2 separate regions of the Homo sapiens genome follow, and region 1 is linked to region 2. Evidence: fine-mapped expression QTL. Tissue or cell type: whole blood. Region 2 holds a variant in brackets; the other region holds the start of a gene. All regions are shown on one strand. Distances are from middle to middle.

Region 1 (4,000 bases), 98 kb after region 2:
ATCTGTAAGTATGCTGGTGCATTTCAGGAAAAGAGGGCAAAGAGGGGAGGTTGTTTGTATGAGTTCGCGTTCGGATAGGCTGAGGTAGAGTTTGAGTTTGAGGTGCTCGTTGGGATAAGTAGGTTGAAGTATTCTGTAAGCAGTTAGGCATAAGGGTCTGAGCTTCTGAAACAAATTTGGACGTTAGTTGAAAGCATATAAATGGGTAAGACTCTTCGGGATAAGTGAAGAATTGGAGACAGGGAAACAGTCCAGCTGGACTCGCAGATTTAGAGATGGGCAGTGGCATGGGGGAGCAGGATAAGAAAAGTCGGCGAGGTAAGAAGAAAAACAGGGCGACATTTTGAAAGCCAAGGGAGCAAGTTTGAAGGCCGCCTCCTGGAGGTCAAGAGGAGGATGACAAATCTATTCTAGCCTCGGTCAAACCGGATTCCGAGGAGTGCAGGCGGGTGGGGGTGGGGCGGAGACACGCCGCTGCGGGCGACTTAAGTTTAGGGGCGAGAAAGGAGGCAGCCTTAGTAGTACATGTATTTTTAAAGGGAATTTGGCTGTGACGAGACAGAAAGGGCGGGACTTGGCAGTTTAGAGCTCAAGGGGATCATCGGCTTCAGAATCCCCTACTCTTTCGTGAGAGTAACTCTCCGTCTAAGGATGTCTTCTGCAGTTCCTTAGGGTCCATATTGGGATTTCCCGGCTGTAAACTAAACAAAGCAAAGCAAAACAAAACAAAAACCCACAGTGCCTCTCAGTAAAACAAAACCAGTATTTTGTTTGAAAGCCTGCTCTCTTTAAAGATCCTGGCATGCAAATAAGGGGCTTTAATGTGGCTCTCAGCGATTGGTAGATACTTACAAAATCCGTCATTTCCTTTCAGTGCAGGACGCAAACCAAGAGGCGGCTTTCTGCTTTTCTATTGGCTGTTAGATACGGCTCCGCTTTTAGCCAATCAAACGACTTCCCTTCACCCCTCCCGGTAGCTCTTATAAATTACATCAAATTGGTTATTCTTTCCACATTCTTCTCCTTGTAAAAGAAGCTGTAACTGCAATTTTAGCCGTAATGTCAGGACGCGGAAAGCAGGGAGGCAAGGCCCGCGCTAAGGCCAAGTCGCGCTCGTCCCGCGCTGGTCTCCAGTTCCCGGTGGGGCGAGTGCACCGCTTGCTGCGCAAAGGCAACTACGCGGAGCGGGTCGGGGCAGGCGCCCCGGTGTACCTGGCGGCGGTCCTCGAGTACCTGACCGCGGAAATTCTGGAGCTGGCGGGCAACGCGGCTCGGGACAACAAGAAGACGCGCATCATCCCTCGCCATCTGCAACTAGCCGTGAGGAATGACGAAGAGCTCAACAAGTTACTCGGGGGTGTCACCATTGCCCAGGGCGGCGTCTTGCCCAATATCCAGGCTGTCCTGTTGCCCAAGAAAACGGAGAGTCACAAGCCTGGCAAGAACAAGTAATTAAGAGGCTTGACACCATACTCATTCACCCCAAAGGCTCTTTTAAGAGCCACCAAAGTGTCAAATGAAGGGCTGATCACGAAATAGCGCATTAGCTCTTTTTTTGAAAACTTGGGTGGCTCTAAAAAGAGCCTTTGGTCTTGGTTTGTTTGTCTGCATTTATTTGCTTTTGGCTTTGTGGCTTTCGGTTTTCTTTGGTAACAGAACGGCCTGGATGTTAGGCAAAACGCCGCCCTGGGCGATGGTGACTTTGCCCAGCAGCTTGTTCAGTTCCTCGTCGTTGCGGATGGCCAGCTGGAGGTGACGAGGGATGATGCGCGTCTTCTTGTTGTCCCGAGCCGCGTTGCCCGCCAGCTCCAGGATCTCGGCGGTCAGGTACTCGAGGACCGCCGCCATGTAGACGGGCGCGCCGGCCCCCACCCGCTCCGCGTAGTTGCCTTTGCGCAGCAAGCGGTGCACTCGCCCTACCGGGAACTGGAGGCCAGCGCGGGACGAGCGCGACTTGGCCTTGGCGCGGGCCTTGCCTCCTTGTTTGCCACGACCAGACATGACTGAAATCAAGGTTAAACACAGACAACGCTCAGAACCTCGCAACAAAATAAGATTGAAAGAGAACCAAGAGGAAAGCCTTTATAAGCTTTCCTAGGGGTGGGGTCAAGAACGAGTTTTTCATTGGTCCTAATATGGCTTCAGAACCGGCCAATCAAGTCAAGAGTCGGTGTTGTTACGTACGCATTGCTGAAAACGCAAGGTCCGCACACGGACCAATGGAAATGAACGACTTTCGGAGCCCTAATTTGCATAAGGTGGTTATAAAAGAATCAGGCCCGCCCATTCTCTTACTTCTTTTCTTGGCTAAGCCGCGTTTGTACTGTGTCTTACCATGCCTGAACCGGCAAAATCCGCTCCGGCCCCTAAAAAGGGCTCCAAGAAAGCCGTCACCAAAGCCCAGAAGAAAGACGGCAAGAAGCGCAAGCGCAGCCGCAAAGAGAGCTACTCCATCTACGTGTACAAGGTGCTGAAGCAGGTCCACCCCGACACCGGCATCTCGTCCAAGGCCATGGGCATCATGAACTCCTTCGTCAACGACATCTTCGAGCGCATCGCGGGAGAGGCTTCCCGCCTGGCGCACTACAACAAGCGCTCCACCATCACATCCCGCGAGATCCAGACGGCCGTGCGCCTGCTGCTGCCCGGCGAGCTGGCCAAGCACGCCGTGTCCGAGGGCACCAAGGCGGTCACCAAGTACACCAGCTCCAAGTGAGTCCCTGCCGGGACCTGGCGCTCGCTCGCTCGAGTCGCCGGCTGCTTGACTCCAAAGGCTCTTTTCAGAGCCACCCACCTAATCACTAGAAAAGAGCTTGTTCACTTATTCCCTTAGTTTCTTTTCATAAAGTAAGTTATTTTAGTGTGAAGGTCATGGGAAATGGCATACGTAGCTTTTTAACTATTTGGAACTCGAGGTCCCCAGTGCGTCATTGGATTTGCTTTTGAATCTAGAGCGTGTCTTTACTCATTGTGCTGCTTAGCCTTCCCAGGAGTCGGTTCTCAATTAGGCTGTTGGGAATCCGCCTCTTTACCCGCCCCCACTCCCGCCCCACACGCGCCCTGGTGGCTCCTTGGGTCTGTTTCATTCTAAAACGAAGTGGCTGAGTTCGGCTGTCATTTAAGAGAACTCCAGGACACAATTCAGCCCGGGTTCCGCAAACACTGCGTGACAGCTCTGTATGACTGACGCTTGGCAGCAGCTTTTGTGTCCGGTCACCAGTTCTGCCGTGCGATGGGGCCTCCTGTGGATACCAGCCGTTCTGTGTATTTTGGACGAAGGCCGCGCAGCCGGGTCCCAGCCTTGTCCTGATTGGGCGACAAGAATATTCAAAATTCTGCGCCTTTTTCTAATTTGTAGATTTCAGTTTCCGTCGTTCACTTTGAGACTTTGAAATTCCTATTTCTCATTTTGTTGATAATTTCTGCATTTAATGGTCTGTGCTTTAAATGGTAACGCTACGGCCCCAGGTCACTGCGAGGCACTTACCATGTAGATACGGGCTCAAAAGTCACCTCTCAGAGACCTACGTCATCCACTCAGGAATTCGCGCCTCTCATACTTGCCTGTCTCATTTTATCTTCCTTCTAGCAGCTGTCTGAAATTGGTTCGTCTGTTTTCTTGTTTATGGTATTCTCAAGCCCTTGACAGACCGGCTAGTGTGGTTTTCCCGTGCATCTTCAGCCTGGCACATTATGGACACTTAAATACTACGTATTGATCTAATATTGTTGGGTTAATTTTTCCATCCCACCCTTTTCTTAATCGCTTCCGTGGATGGATGAAGGGTGCTGTTCATTTCCATTAGATGTATGTGAAGGCACAGTGAAAATGGAAATGTTCTTGGAGCTACTTCCTCAAAATGTATCCTTAGTCACCTCAGTGCAACAGCTGGGAGGGGGCCGTGTTAAGATTTTTTTTGCTACAAAGAGGAGGTGGCAATGGTAGATCCACCCTTATGCTTCTCAGTTTAGCATAACCTCTTATGGATTTTCATCAAAT
Region 2 (4,264 bases):
GTTGAGAGGAGTTGAAGCAGTGAGGGTGGACTTCCACATGGTGGACTGCCCGTGTTTTCTTAGTCCTCCTCCCTGGACAAAATGTGGCATTGTATGTGAGCGTATGTTCTCTGGAGTCAGCTGGGCTGGGTTGATAAAAATCCTGGGTCTGCCACTTTTACCTGTGTTGCCTTGGGCATATTACCTAACCTCTGTGAGCTTTAGTATCTTCATCTGTGATGTGGAGTAACAATACCAAGTTCTCAGAGTTGTTTGGAAGTTTAAATGAAATAATATCTAAAGCTTTAAAACATATTACTTTCTTTCTCTTCTTACTTTGAGACTCATCTTGTTACTTCTGGATTGTAACATTTAGTGTTATATAGATCCCTTTAGAGTAGGATTGGTCTGGATTCAGGACTAGATCCACAGATAAAAGAAAAAAGAAAAAATATAGTAAAATTGGTCATATTTTCTAAGAAGGTTATATTTTGTTTCTTTGACTTGAAGGACCCATATTAACTAAAAACAAATTGCCAAGACAATTATTCATCTCTCCCTCCCACCTAATCAAGAATTATGTGAAAGTTCTAAGTGCCTCTGTCCCTCCTCTTTCTCTCTGTCTGGATTCCTTGGGACTGACATCATAGACATGGAGGAGTCTCTGACTTTTTAAAGTTTTTGACAGTCTTGAATGTTGTGGTTTTCCAGTGAGTTATGGGAAGAGTTGGAGAGGACTCAAATGCAGCTCTAATGCTTCAGTGGAATCAGGAGACGGTTAGAGAGTGAAACTCTGGAAGCTTTGGGGGATGTTGTAAATGAGAGAATGTACGGTCAGTAGTTTCTCTGGCATTTTAATAGAGGGTTATTATCCATGGTCTTTAATTTTGGGTCATTTTTCTCTGTTATTAAGTAAGTTGGACACTTGGAATATGCAGACTGATTTTAATATTACTCTGAGCTAAACAATGTTTAGGAAGAGAAATTTGTTGCAAATAAAGTCGTATAACAATCTTAAACATATGTCTTTGAGATGAGTTACTGTTTTAGACTTGTCTGTGTACAACACTGATAGACTATCAACAGTACTGTGTGTGTGTGTGTGTGTGTGTGTGTGTGTGTGTGATGGGGTACCATACAAATATACTTCAGTTCATCTGAACAAAAATTGCCTGCTGTGCTTGGATGCTGGGGAATATTGGATGAACAAGCCAAGATTCCTGCCCTCAAATTGTTCCTGGTTTAGTGGGGAGACAAACATGTAAATAAACACAACTACCATGCAGGGTGATAAACATTATGGTAGAAGTAGCATACAGGGTGCAGTGGGGGCACCAAGAAAGAAGTGGGCAATTTAGGAAGTCAGAGAACTTTTGCAAATGAGGTAGTACTTAAGTTAGTTTTAAAGAAGAGGTGAGAATTCACCTGCTACACCTAGGAGTTACTCCAGTTAGAGGGAACAATATGTGCAAAGGGACTGAGATTTGAAGCACATAGTACACTTCGGGAACTCCCAGTACAAGGAAGGGAATAATGGGAGGTAGAAAAGGCTGGAGAATTAGGTAGAGCCAGATCATGAAGGGCCTTGTTTGTCCTGTATAGATTTTTTTTTTTTTCATACAGGGTCTCACTGTGTCCCTCAGGCTGAGTGCAGTGGTGCCATCATGGCTGACTGCAGCATCAACCTTCTGTGCTCAAGTGATCCTCCCACCTCAGCCTCCTGAGTAGCTGGGACTACAGGAGTGCACCTCCACACCCGACTAATTAAATTAATTAATTAATTTTTTTGTAGAGATGGGTTCTTGCTACATTGCTCAGGCTGGTCTTAAACTCCAGGACTCAAGTGATCCTTCCTCCGTGGTCTCCCAAAGTGCTAAGATTATAGGTGCAAGCCACCAGGCGTGAGCCAGCATGCCCGACCCTGTATAGGAATTTGTTTTTTTGTTTGTTTATTTTGAGATGGGGTCTCGCTCTGTCGCCCAAGCTGGAGTGCAGTCGCATGATCCTGGCTCACTCAACCTCCACCTCCCAGGTTCAAGTGATTCTCCTGCCTCAGCCTCCCGAGTAGCTGGGATAAAAGGCACACACCACCACGCCTGGCTAATTTTTCTATTTTCAGCAGAGATGGGGTTTCACCATGTTGGCTAGGCTGGTCTTGAACTTTTGACCTTAAGTGATCTGCCCGCCTCGGCCTCCCAAAGTGCTGGGATTACAGGTATGAGCCACTGTGCCTGGCCTCTGTATAGGAATTTGAGTCTTAGGCTTTAGCCATTGAAAATCCATTGAAGAATTTAGAACAGTGGGATGTAATACTATAATACTGGCATTTTAAATTGCTCATAGTGGTTGCCTGTGGAGGCCAATCAATTGAC[G/A]GAGAGAGGTAGAGGGAGGAGTTAGGGAGCTATTTCCTGGGGTGCAGGTTATGAAAACCTGAGATAGAATAAAAGAGCTGTAGCCTGTGGAAGGTTTTGCAGGGATTTGAGAGATATTTAAGGTAAAATTAGTAAAACTTAGTGAAAGATTATTTGTGTGGATAAGGCAAGAGAGAAGTCCAGGGCGGCTCCCTGGCTTGTGACTTGGATGATTGGGGACTATTTGCTACAATAGGCAGTACTGGAAGAGGAATAGTTTGAAAGGATGGGAGACAGAGATGAGAGAATAAGCTCATGTTTTTATATACTGAATTTTAAGTGCCTGTATGATTCCCAGGTGAGGTGGAAAGAATTTGGGGGTGCAGATACATTTGGAGTCATGAACATTTGGGTGCTTAGGGCTGTGAATGAAGTTTCAATGAGAAGATGGAAGGCCTAAGGCTAGAATGGTGGGTGCACTAAGTTTGGTTCAGTCACAGAAATGGGAGTCCACAAAGACGACCAAGACACAGGGCCAGAGAAGCAGGAAGAGTGGTCAGTAAGTGTCAAATGCTACAAAGAGAGCAGAAGTAAGGATGATTGTGTTCATCTTATATATAAGCCAGTGCCATTCTCTTTCTGCAGAAGCCTATTTTTGTAGGTTGAGGACAAGGAGATTTGCAGGGAAGAGGAGAGTAACCGCCAACAAATAGGAGCAGGGGAGGAAACCTAAAGGAACCCCTCTTGCTTTGCTTTGTAATTTTTTTTTCTGTGAAGTAGGAGGCAAGGTCATTTGACAGGAGTAAGGGGAGGTGATGTGGCTTGGGTGGGAGGCTCAAGGAGCATGGTGAAGGTATGGGATAGTAGCTCAGAAGATTGATTGAGGTACTAAAGCAAAGATAGCAGTGTTTCAATAAAAGCAAGGTGGCTGAATAACATGTTAGTAGTCATATTGCTCTGCAAGGTTAGCAGGGAAGTTAGAATGTGGGATCCATCCAAGTTGGACAGATGAAATGGATAAGGAAACTAAATTTTCACAGGAAAGTAAATTAGGTGATCAATTATTGGTTTTACTTTGTTAGGTAAGAAGAGATAAAGTGGAATCTATCCATTTCCCTCAACCTTCACTGCTTTTATCCTGGTTTAGCGCTATTTTGCAAGAATTTTCTAATCAATTCTCTCCCTAAATCCACTGTGCTTCTTCCAAACTCTTCACATTGTAACCAGGGTGATCTTTTAACAATTCACATCTGATTATGTTCTACCTCTGCGTGCAACCTTTCAGTGGCTTCCCATTATATTTAAGATAAGATCTCAAATCTTTAACAGGGTCCACTAGGCCCTCTCTTCATCCTCCTGTAGCAACATTCTCATCTTTATGTTCCTTCCTGCCACGGAAGTTTAGCGCATGTTTCCTCTGCTTGGAGCGTTCTTCCTTTCCCAATTTGTCTCTCCAATTGCTGCTTAATCTTAATTAATCTTAATTCATAGATGAAACATAATTTCCTTGGGGAAGCTTTTCCTGACTCCCTATAGGAGATAACACTCCCTTCTCTAACATTGCTTTATTATAATTGTTTGTGAAAATATTTGAAAAGATTATGAAAGGCAGAAATGTTAGATGAATTGTGCAGGTGGTTGTTGAAATTGCTCAGGAAGATGGTAGGATTTTGTGGTTTTTTCCTCCATGCTGGAAGCTTTTGAGGATAGGGATTGTGTCTAGTTCACTGTTGTGTTTTTACTCATGAGCATAGTGCCTCACACAAAGGCACTCCAAATACTTCTGTTGAATTAATGAATAAGGTGGTTAAGAGACTGGATGTCTTAGTGAGCAGGCAGGTTTAAAAGTACAGAGGAGGCCGGGCGCAGTGGCTCACGCCTGTAATCCCAGCACTTTGGGAGGCCAAGGCGGGTGGATCACGAGGTCAGGAGAT

What was found. PIP is the estimated chance that this variant, and not a neighbour inherited with it, causes the effect.
Region 1: it holds the start of H2BC21, and the variant in region 2 is fine-mapped to the expression of H2BC21 in whole blood (TOPMed, PIP above 0.99).

What each region holds. Positions count from the first base shown.
Region 1 is chr1:149,884,976-149,888,975 of GRCh38, reverse strand. It overlaps H2BC21 (H2B clustered histone 21), which reads left to right and starts at 2,294. Exons shown (of 1, transcript NM_003528.3): 1 at 2,294-4,000. The coding sequence starts at 2,336. The coding sequence ends at 2,716. H2AC20 (H2A clustered histone 20) reads right to left here and starts at 2,058. Exons shown (of 1, transcript NM_003517.3): 1 at 1,565-2,058. The coding sequence starts at 2,001. The coding sequence ends at 1,612. It overlaps H2AC21 (H2A clustered histone 21), which reads left to right and starts at 1,011. Exons shown (of 1, transcript NM_175065.3): 1 at 1,011-1,507. The coding sequence starts at 1,060. The coding sequence ends at 1,452. RefSeq lists enhancers at 201-320, 123-717, 941-1,230, 1,251-1,390, 1,801-1,860 and 6 more.
Region 2 is chr1:149,983,078-149,987,341 of GRCh38, reverse strand. The region is part of intron 1 of OTUD7B (OTU deubiquitinase 7B); the gene reads left to right. Among named protein-coding and RNA genes, the nearest start is that of OTUD7B, 26 kb to the left of the region's middle. The variant G/A (reference allele first, on the strand shown) is at 2,352.